2 linked regions of the Homo sapiens genome follow. The protein of the gene in region 1 interacts with the protein of each later gene in a pairwise test. Each region holds a gene or a part of one and is shown in the gene's direction. Other genes may lie near its edges.

Region 1 (4,632 bases):
CTCCCTGTGCCCCACCTAATCACTGTCCTGCTGTCCTCCCGAAAGGTAATCACCATCCTAACAGCAATAGATTAATTTCACTTATTTTAAAATTTTAATGAAATGGAACAATTCAGTATTTATTTTGTGTCTATATTTTTTGTGTTCCACATTATTTTGTTAGGTATGGTTTATTTTTATTGCTGAATAATATTCTACTGTATCACTATACCACAATTTATCCATTTTAATCATTGCCAGACATCTGGATCATTTCTGATTTGTTGCTATTAGATTTGCTGGAAGAACATTGTTGTATGTGTGTTTTGGTGCACATGCACATGCTTTTCTAAGTAGGATATGTACCAGTGGAATTTGTGTGTCTTCAACTTTGTTAGGTAATGCCAAGCGGTTTTCTAAAGTAGTTGTACCAATTACTTTTAATTCATGAATTTATTATAAATGTGACCTAAAAGATCTTTTATAAATCAACTATCATTTTAATATTCCTTAAAGTGAAATTACTGATAGCAACAAAGGTCGGAAGATGTTGGAGAAGATGGGTTGGAAGAAAGGAGAGGGCCTGGGGAAGGATGGTGGAGGAATGAAAACGCCGGTAAGACTTGGATTTTCTTTTATTCATTTATTCCTAGAGCAGACATTTACCGTGTACATTAATGTGCCAAACGTTGCCTTAAGTGCTAAGAATATAGTAGAAAGCAAAAGGAGACATGATTACTGCCTTTGTGGCATTCACAATTACCAAATATATACATGTGCTTTGTTTTGTGTTTTATATTTTTAGAAAGCCTCTTTTTGAGTTTTTTTCCCTACATTAAAGCTAGGGTGAGAAGTGCTGTTTCCTGAGCCAAAGGTTCTTCTGTGTTTTAGAGTCATTTTTAATAACTGTCAGAGCACTCAAGAACAATCACAGTGTTAGTTTACAAACAGGTGGATTGTGTATGAGCTGAAAAATCTGTTTGGTTCAAGAATCAGAGCATGTAACATGAAATATAGAGAATAATCTCTGGAAAATGACATAGTGGTTTAATTAATGGTCCCATGGTTCGTAGGAGGTTTAGGTTATCTTTCACACAAACCTTAATAAGTAACCTGACTGTAGAACTTTCTGGATAATGAACTTAGTACCTAAAGAAATAATAGATGGATCAGTGTGAGTATATACCAGCTTTCTCATTTTTTTTGAGGTACAGTGGAAAGAACAAGGATTTTGTAGTCAGACCTAGGTTAGAATATGTGCTCTATCATTTACTAGCTATGTGGCTTTGGGCAAGTTTGGACTTTAGTTTTCTTATGAAAAAATGGGGATAAGAACTCTTTTTCAGGGTTGTCTTGAAGATAAAGCCCCTAAGCATTGTACCTTACATTAGGCACTCAGTAAATGGTAGCTTTGAATGTTCTTAAAATATTGAGAAGTGCTCCCCTCCTGTTATGAAAACAATCAAATTCTTTTTATGGTTATTAATGTTTAACCTGCTTGTTCACTTACTTAGATAAGGATAGGACAGTGGGTTTAAACATATCCATTGCCTTTATTTCTGGTTAGGGTGGAATGACATACTCTGCAGCATCTAAATGAAATTTGGTGATTGCTAGTTAAGGAGCACTCTATTTTCTGTAAAGTAGGCTGTACTTATTGACAAGGCAAGACAACATAGAAAAATGAATGTAAGTTCCATGTATAAAGGTATATATATTCCTGTATGTATTTGATGCATCTGACAGGTTTTTCTTTTGCATCAATCTTTAATAAATCAAAAAATTGTAGAGTCCTAAGTTGGACACAGCAGATTTCAATGTGTTTAGACTCTAAAATAAGTCCTCTGCTCAACTTTTGGTAACAGATCCAGCTTCAGCTTCGGCGAACACATGCAGGCTTGGGGACAGGCAAACCATCCTCATTTGAAGATGTTCACCTTCTCCAAAACAAGAACAAAAAAAACTGGGACAAAGCACGAGAGCGGTTTACTGAAAACTTCCCAGAAACTAAGCCTCAAAAAGATGACCCAGGGACCATGCCTTGGGTAAAAGGGACTTTAGAGTGAAGGCTAATCATAGAAAAAAAACCTCTAGTTTTTTTAAAAATAGAATTTGGAAACTTATTTTTTCTCCCCAAAAGAATCAGCAGCACAGGGGAACTATGTCACAGTTTACCTCTTCCTGATTCAGAAATGTGTATGGTTTGCAGCTTTTAAAAACCATTTTTTTAAAACTAATAAATAGTGACTGAACCAATTTATGCAGTAAATAGACTAAAGTTCACAGGGCACGGATGAGTTTATCAAACTTCGTTATTTTATCTTGTCATTTACAACATCCATATAAGCAACTAGCCATATAAGCAAAATTCATAGAACTACTAATGACTTAAGTGTACATCTGTTCTTGTCTCCATATATTCATGTAAGATGCACAACAAAAGAAACATCAGAAGTTTATAAAAATAAATCTGACTATATGCATCCTCATTTATTCCCTTTAGAACCTAGGTAAAAAATGTTGCGAAAACATGGGTAGTGGCGCATACATTTTGTTATCCTTGAAATAGCCTAAGTAATGTTATTGAAGAACTAATGAACAGGTAACATATTGTAGAAAATTAGTCTTTCATTGTTTTCTTCTGTGAAGAATCTGTTGCTATGTACTGTATATTCAGCATTTATATTTGGTTTGTTTCATAGCTAATGAGGTATTTAGATATGAACAACTGAATACATATTGAAATAGTGTGCTGGCTTTTGTAGTTTTGATAAAGACCATTGCAGGCAATGGAATTGTGCCAGAGAAATCTGATTTCTAGTACAAAAGGAATACTTAGCCAGGGCCTCAAGCTCAAGATACTTATTGAAAACATCCTCAATTGCAATAAAAACATTATAACATGAAAAAGAGTGATTTTTTGAACCGGTGATTTAAATGTATTGATCTGCTTTGAATTTTCAAGCAGCCAGAATTTTCTAGTTTAAATTGGCAGAGTTATAACAAAGGAGAGCCTCAAATATTAGACAATTGCAGTGCGGCTTTCTGGGCACAGGTGTCACTGCTCTGCCACCTATCACTATTCTTTTTCTGTTCAGTTTTTCTCTCAGGTGTTTGCTGGGAAATTAACACTGGAACTGACCCTTTTCTGGCAGTGAATGTAAGCTCTAGCTCCCCCATCTACTATAAAGAAATGTCTTCGAGATGTAGAAATAAGGAATATTCTGAAAATAAAAATTATACAGTAGTAAAGATAATTCAGAAAGAAAAAGCTACCTGTTAGAATTTCCAGTCTAAATGGCACAGGGTAGTTACGGAGAAAAGGGGATGGAGAAGGAGAAACTATGACTAAAGATGAGAGGTATGAACGAGTTGTCAGGTTCCTATGGGCTTAAGCTAGGACAATCAGGCCCTAAACTCCAAATTTGGATAAAATATCTCTTTGCATTCTTCTTGGCCACCTGCATAGTCTGACACATACGTATGTACAGTTAGACTTGCAGGCTGCAGGAGTGCCCTGCATTGTTTTCTTTTAATTAGAAATAAAAAGTATTAGTCTAAATGTGGTTCTGGTGCTGGTGCCCTGTATATATGTAACAATATAGGACCCCTCCAAATAGGTTTTGCTTCTGGTGAATCTTGGTCATTGGGTTAGTATATGACTGTCTATAATATTTTCCATTTGTATTATTATATTGGGGAAAACATTTTTTATCATTTTCTATTAAGAAAATGGAAAACTTAAATATGGTGTTAAAAATGGAAATATATGTGATATTTGCATTATTAAACCCCTTTGCAGATCTAAAGTCTCAGGGTTCCACTATTAGTGGTTAAAGTACTGAATAATGTCTGGGTCTATTTCCATCTGTAAAATAAGAATATTTGTCTCACGTGTCTGTCATGAATAGCAAATGAGAAAATGTATATAAAAGCACTTTGTAAATTGTAAAAGTAGTACAGATGTGAGCTTCTATTTGTTTAGAAGCATAAATGTGAATTATATACAGTTTGAATTTTGCATAAATTTTTTGTGTCTAATTTTAAATATTTGTTTAATCACACTACACATTTTCTGAGTAGCGTTTAAGTATGTATTTTAAGTGGAGCTGCAAGTTCTGAATTTTAAGAAATCTAACATCTAATATTTTTGCCAGAACATAAGCTGGCAAAGTTGAGAACAGAAGAAACTTTCAACATTAGAGTAAAATAGAAATTTTTTCCAGTATTAAATAGAGGAAGCACCCTTATCCTCAAAAAGAGGAACTTTTTTCTGCTTTTGAAACAAGTGTTACTTCTGATGTGTCATTTTTATCCTGCATTTATAGAACGTAATGGTTTACGCAAATCAAAAACCTTCTGACTTTCCATAGAATATTTTTAATTTTTTATGATTTTTATTTATTTATTTTTTTGAGACAGAATCTTGCTCTGTTGCCCAGACTAGAATGCAGTGGTGCAATCTCAGCTCACTGCAACCTCAACCTCCTGGGTTCAAGCGATTTTCGTGCCTCAGCCTCCCAAGTAGCTGGATTACAGGTGCATGCCAACATGCCTGGCTAATGTTTGTATTTTTAGTAGAGATGGGGTTTCACCATGTTGGCCAGGCTGGACTCCAACTCCTGACCTCAGGTGATCTGCCTGCCTCAGCCT
Region 2 (7,301 bases), on another chromosome or scaffold:
CCTTTTACTTTCCCCCCAAGTGCCTCACTATCATTCTCTCATGTCATAACTAGCTACTCAGTAAAATTTGTTCAATGTCAAATGAATGAATATGTTATACTGCCCTGTGTTTAAAATGGATTAACTTTTCTTCATGGTAAAATCTTGACACAGTGTGATCAGTCTTTTCAGTTTAATACTGTGGTTTATCAAATCTTAAGATGCTATCGACTATAAGAAACACCATCATTGTTTTATGTACCACCTAGCAAGGGAAAATGCTGCCAATTTTTTGGTAATTTGTAGTAATATGCCATAATTATATGATGCATCCCAATTTCAAAGATGTTAAAGTGTTTAAAAAAATTGTCAGAATCAATGTAACATGGAAGTAGGCTACATTTAATAGTTCACTTAAGTTTTAAAAGCTGATTAAAATATTTTAAAAAGCTGGAGAAGGGATCAAGTCCAGTTATTAATGCTTTGGGTTTTAGTTCCATTTAATTTTCAATTTGCTTTTTTTGATATTAGGAAAGTCTCACAATAATAAACAATCATAGCTGTTAAAACTGATAATCCTTGGTTTTTAGTACCCAGATCCTGACTTATTTACCTGTTTCTAATAAGATTATGCTTTATAATGTGAGCTATTGTATTCTAAACTTAGAATAAGTATGTCTGGTTCAAGTTGAGTTTCAAATAAAAACACCTTCATGCTAATTTTTTTTTCTTTTTTCTTTTTTGAGACAAAGTCTCGCTCTGTTGCTCAGGCTGGAGTGCAGTGGTGCCATCTCCACTCACTGCAACCTCCACCTCCCAGGTTCAAACAATTCTCCTGCCATAGCCTCCTGAGTAGCTGGGATTACAGGCGCCTGACACCACACCTGGCTAATTTTTGTATTTTTAGTAGACATAGGTTTTCACCATGTTGGCCAAGCTGGTCTCGAACTCCTGACCTCAGGTGATCCACCCGCCTTGGCCTCTCAAAGTGCTGGGATTATAGGCATCAGCCACCACGCCTGGCCTGTCCTATATTCCTTGAATAGTCTATGTTACTGTGTTAAGATTATAAACTATCTTAGAAAAATGCTTTGAATAATGATGATATAATCAGATTTTCTGGGCCATTTTGGAAAACCATAATCTTGAATTTATTTGCAGTAGATTTTATTGTATACCTGGGAAAGCAAAAATGTCTAATTTTAAATCTAGAGTAATTTATAAAAATTATGGAGTTAAGTAAATTGGTATAATGAAGACTACTGAGTGCTAGCCTCCGGACCATTATAAAACTATTAAGTAATAGAATGTCTTGAATAGTCTTTTTGGAGTTTATATTAGGCTCATATTTAAGAACTGCTAATGAGGTACACCATGGCTGCATGAGGTTGTGGCAAGAGCATTGGACCTCAGTGAAGTTACTCACTCATCTTGAGCCTTAGGCCTTTACCTGTGTTATTTGCCCTGCATAACTCACAGGGCCTCTGAAGAAATGAGATAGTACATTTGAAATCACTTTGTACCCGGTAAAACATGCAAGTGAGGTTTTTTTTTTCTCATAGCCCTTTACAAGAGATGTGAAGTTCATACAATTTTGCTTAAGTGTATCCTTTTTCTCAAGAAGCTTATGCTATAAATAGAAATTGAAAATGTTTACCAATATAAATGACAGATTAAATGGAATCTGCACATAGATTACCTGGACTGTATCAATAGCATACTGTGCCTTCAGTATTACTAGAAATAAGAGTATGTCTGTCTTTGAGAGGTTTGAGATACTCAGGGTTTTCTTCCTCTAAAAGGTGCTTTTATACTACATCTAATACTTGGCATATTCCCATCCCATGCCTCTTAATGAAAGGAGAGTTTAGGGAATTATTAAATGCTTATAAAGTCTAAGAGAAATTATTTAAATGGAGTCACTCTTTGATGGAGGACTGCTTTAAGTACAAGTTTAAGGTAAAGATAAGCCCTTCTTCCTCATAGAATGATAGACATTCAGTTTAACTTTGATATTCAAAATAGTGCTATAATTGTATATAAGGCTACCGGTGTGGTCTGACAGAAAATTATGCAAAGATGCCCTTACGAATAAAGACCTAGGCCCGGCATGGTGGCTCACGCCTGTAATCCCAGCACTTTGGGAGGCCAAGGTGGGCAGATCACGAGGTCAGGAGTTCGAGACCAGCCTGGCCAATATGGTGAAAACCCCATCTCTACTAAAAATACAAAAACTAGCCAGGCGTGGTGGTGGGCACCTGTAATCCCAGCTACTCGGGAGGCTGAGGCAGGAGAATCGCTTGAACGCGGGAGGCGGAGGTTGCAGTGAGCCGAGATCATGCCACTGCACTCCAGCCTGGGTGATGGAGCCAGAGTCCGTCTAAAAAAAAAAAATACCTAAACCAAAGGACCACCTTATAAAACAACATAGTAAAAATATCTACATCATTTGGTTATCTTGTTATTGGAAGACTTGAAAATGTTGATTAATTCAGAACAGGAATATAGTTTGAAATCTTCTCATTGTTTGAAATTCCATAATTGAGTTGTTTTCACTTAAAATAGCCGTTAGGTTGTTTAATCAATTCAGGTTATATATACCTACATAACAGTTATTCTCCTATGGCCAGATTCATTTCTTTCTGGAAATTATGACACTAATTTTATAATCCAAAAATATATTAGGACAAATTCTATTTACTTTTCCAGAAGTTAAATGGGTATTTTTGTTCTACTAGTGTGGTTTCTAGCTAAACAATCAGATAGTTGTTCTTAAATGCTTACTATTTTATCATGAACATTTGCTTCTCTAGCTGCTGTAGTTAGAGCATTCATTCTCCAGATAATTATTGAGCACCTACTTTGGGCCAGTCTCCATGCTTTGATTTGAGGGTGCAGTGGTGAACAAAAGCAGACAAGTGAGGAAGCCTCCTACCAAAGAAGGGTACTTGATATTTTGTTCTCTCATACCTCTCTCTGGTACCCTGTGTCTTTCAAGTACTTTACTTGGCTATGGGATATGTATATAGTAGCACATGCAGGAAATGCTTCTTAAATGAAAAGATGGGAACTGAAGTAGTGATTGATGTCTGTAGAGTCAGTTTGATTAAACATAGCTTAGTAAAAGCAGACAAACCAAAAACAGATTTTAGGTTTTAATTAAACCTGAAAAGGCTAGAAGTATAGAGAAGAAAAAGAGGAAGGTAGTTGTAATATGTGGAGTAACAGGAACTAAAATTTGCCTTTATTATCATGTGTGCAGGGTTTTTGTTTTTGTTTTAAAGAGACAGGGTCTCACTGTCACCCAGGCTGGCGTGCAGTGCAGTTATACTGCAGCCACAAACTCCTGGACTCAAGCTATCATCCTCCTGCCTTCGCCTCCCAAATAGCTGGGATTACAGGCACACACCACTATGCCCAGACAGGGTCTCAGTATGTTGCCTAGGCTGGCAAGATTTATTTTTTAAAGATATCGATATAAGTTCTAAATACTTGATGTGTGAAATACTGAGATAGATATTTCATAGAATTTTAGAGCTGGAATATTTAAGGGGATCATCAAAGTTCCAGAATGTGTTTTTTGCAACTCAGAGCTAAGACATAATGCTTTTTTATACAGATGAATGAAACAAAACATAATAGAATCCAAATTTTGATAAATATTTGGTTTTAGAACATGTTATGTGAGGTACTTGGAGAAAACATACTTTTATAGGTGGTTTTCTAGACTAAAATTAACATTTTAATAGGATCGGCTTCTCCGCTATCCCTATGCCATTGAACTATAGATGGTCTAAAATAAACCCTGGCCCACATTAATGTTTTTATTTAAAATTAATTTGCATTTCTTCAACACAAGGTTAAATAGAATGAGCGTATTGAATCTCAGGATGTTAACCCTAAAATTAAAATATTCCATAAATAATCCACAATGAGGGTCAGTCACAAATGGAATAGATAATTGAGTTGGTACCATAATACAGATTTTGGTTCTTAATTGAGCAATTTAGAAGAATTTTATTTAGTATTTCTTTCCTTCCTACAGCTACGGTTTGCTGAGAAAAAATGCAAATTTCTCCATCAAGACTATAAATTTTATATGGCAGGAAACTTGTCTCTAGTTCACTATCATCACTAGTTCGCAACAGTTGTCACTTAGAAAGCTTGTCTCTACTTCTCTAGCGTAAATAAAAGCTCTGTAAACCTTTGTTGAATAAATAAGGGATGATCATGTAATAAAGCTAGTATGTTTCACATTTTATATATTTTTAAATGTTTTCTCTTCCTATATTAGCAGTGAGTGAAGATCTTGTAATCAGGTTACGTCGACCCCCTCTAAGATACCCAAGATATGGTAAGAGATTGTTTGTCTGTTGGTTTACCTTTGTTATAAATACAGTTTTATTTTTAAATATGGTTGTACATGTATTCATATGATTCAGAACTTAAAAGTTACTGTAAATATACATTAAAAAATCTCCCTGTCCCCTCTGTCATTCAGCCAGCCAGTCTCTCTTCATCAAAAGCAACCAATGTTGTCAGTTTATATTTTTTGGAGATTTACAGAAATTCATGGATGAAATTATCTTGTCCTTTTTATAATACAAATTTTGGCTTTATAAACTCTCATTTCTGTCTTTTTTTTTTTTTTTAATTTGAGACAAGATCTCGCTCTGTCATCCAGGCTGGAGTGCAGTGGCACAACCAGGGCTGACTGCAGTCTCAATCTCTCTGGCTCAAGCAGTCCTCCTGCCTTAGCCTGCCAAGTAGCTGAGACTATGCATCCACCACCACGCCTGGCTGATTTTTGTATCTTTTGTAGAGATGGGGTTTTGCCATGTTACCCACATGATCTCAAACGCCTGGGTAAGTGATCCACCCACCTCAGCCTCCCAGAGTGCTGGGATTACAGGCATGAGCCACGGCACCTGGCTTACTTTTCTGCACTTTCTTGTTTATTTTTACTTAACATATATACAGAGATATTTCTATATTCATATATAAAAAGCTTCCTTTTTTAAAGAGATTGTTTCTTATATATTCCTGTGATTCTTTATGATGATTTTAAACTATGGTCAGGGACTTTATTCTTCCAGTATACTGCTAACAAAAAATTCAAGCTGGAGCTCTGTGGCACAGAACGACAAAATGTCCCTCCCTCAGTTATCTTTTTGACTAAAACGATTAAAAGTATTGCCCTGAAATTGATTTCATGACTATGAAGAAAACTAGTAAAGACACTCCAAGCAGTCTACTTTTACTTCATTTTCCTTGTTTTTTTGGCTCTTAAAGATGCTTTATCATGGGAACTAAAAAGGAAATGTATTTATCTTTATATTAGGCTTCTGTACCTTCCCATTCTCTTTATCAAAGAATGATGTTGATTTATTTCGATAGATAGTTGACTATCCTTTTAAGTATTCCAGTGGTAAAGATCTACTAAGGTTTTGTTAATGAACCTGTGGTAAAGAACCATATGATGCATTTCCTTTTCAACCCTAATCATTCTCTTGCTATGTCTCTTGCAGATTCGACATACAAAACAAATAGAAATACTAAAATGAGTGAATTATGTTCGTTTATTTCTATTCTTTTTTTTTTCCAGGCAGGGTCTCACTCTCACCCAGGCTGGAGTGCGGTGGCGTGATCTTGGCTCACTGCAGCCTCCTCCTCCTATTGTAGTCCCAGCTACTCTGGAGGCTCAACTGAGCCTCCTACTTCAGCCTCTGGAGTAGCTGGAACTACAGTCATGCATCACCATGCCTGGCTGATTCCTGTGTTTTTTATAGAGATGGGGTTTCACCATGTTGCCCAGGCTAGTCTCGAATTCCTGGGCTCTAGCAATCCACCCGCTTTGGCCTCCCAAAGTGCTGGGATTATTGGCATGCACAACTGCGCCCAACCCTATCTCTAATTCTTACAAGGTCTCTTTGAGGGTCCAGATTAATAGAATACAAGAGTATATATATCTAGTCATTGGCTTGAGAATACTAATTTATTATGTCAGTTTGTGGGGACCCAGTCCCTATGACTAGGACCTCCCATAAACAGCCTTGGTTTTTGTTGTCTATAATTATGCCTATATTATTGCTTAAATTCATATAAAAACATGTAATCAATTTAGTCCTGCTAGTCTTCATTAAATTCACACTATTAGGAAAAAGGAGATAACAACTTACCAATTAAGGTTTTTCTCTTGATTTATTTTTTGTTTTTGTTTTTCTGAGACAGAGCCTTGCTCTGTCACCCAGGCTGTAGTACCGTGGTGCGATCTCGGCTCACTGCAACGTCTGCCTCCCAGGTTCAAGCAATTCTCCTGCCTCAGCCTCCCAAGTAGCTGGGATTACAGGTGCCCACCACCACGCCCAGCTACTTGTTTTGTATTTTTAGTAGAGACAGGGTTTCACCATGTTGGCCAGGCTGGTTTCAAACTCCCTGACCTTGTGATCTACCCCACTTGGCCTCCCAAAGTGCTGGGATTACAGGCATGAGCCACCACGCCCGGCCTTTCTCCTTGATTTTTATTTTTATTTTTTATTTTTATTTATTTATTTATTTTTATTTTCTCGAGACAGGCTCTTGCTCTATCACCGAGGCTGGAGTGCAATGGCGTGATCTTGGCCCACTGCAACTTCTGCCTCCCTGGTTCAAGTGATTCTCCTGCCTCAGCCTTTCAAGCAGCTGGGATTACAGATGACCACCATGACACCCAGCTAATTTTTGTATATTTAGTAGAGATGGGGTTTCACCATGTTGGTCAGGCTGGTCTCGAACTCCTGACCTCAAGCAATCCACCTGCCTCGGCCTCCCAGAGTTTTGGGATTGTAGGCGTGAGCCACCACACCTGGCCCTTTCTTCATTTAGAAAGTGAATTCGATACGTTGTTCACGGCGAGTTCAGTGTCCTTTGCTGTAATACGTTCGTTGAACGGGTTTTAATTCATTTCAGTGTCTGCCTGGCTATAGGACATGACATACCATGATTTGTGGTTTTAAATGAATCTACATTGAATGTTGTTAGACTTAGTTTTTTTTACATTTTAATTATTTTCTAAATTTGAAGATGAGCCAAAAGGGAAACGCTTCATTTTTCTTTATAAATCATTGTACCTTCCTCTAATTCATCTTTCACTTAAGTTCAGGCCACTTCTTTAGAGACTTAAAAAAGCTTTTTAGGCTGGGTGTGGTGGCTCACGCCTATAATCCCAGCACTTTGGGAGGCTGAGGTGGGCAGATCACCTGAGGTCAGGAGTTCAAGACCAGCCTGGCTGGCATGGCAAAACCCCGTCTCTACTAAAAGTACAAAATTAGCCAGGCGTGGTG

What was found.
Region 2: the proteins of AGGF1 (region 1) and TOR1AIP1 interact in binary tests that used the Homo sapiens proteins (3 or more experiments, as listed by UniProt).

The regions. Positions count from the first base shown.
Region 1 is NC_000005.10:77,061,208-77,065,839, forward strand, and holds the end of AGGF1 (angiogenic factor with G patch and FHA domains 1), read left to right. Parts: intron 1-495; coding exon 496-595; intron 596-1,844; coding exon 1,845-2,045; 3' UTR 2,046-4,027; downstream 4,028-4,632. UniProt on the Homo sapiens protein: Promotes angiogenesis and the proliferation of endothelial cells. Able to bind to endothelial cells and promote cell proliferation, suggesting that it may act in an autocrine fashion.
Region 2 is NC_000001.11:179,885,037-179,892,337, forward strand, and holds part of TOR1AIP1 (torsin-1A-interacting protein 1), read left to right. Parts: intron 1-4,273; coding exon of another isoform or gene 4,274-4,276; coding exon 4,277-4,333; intron 4,334-7,301. UniProt on the Homo sapiens protein: Required for nuclear membrane integrity. Induces TOR1A and TOR1B ATPase activity and is required for their location on the nuclear membrane. Binds to A- and B-type lamins. Possible role in membrane attachment and assembly of the nuclear lamina.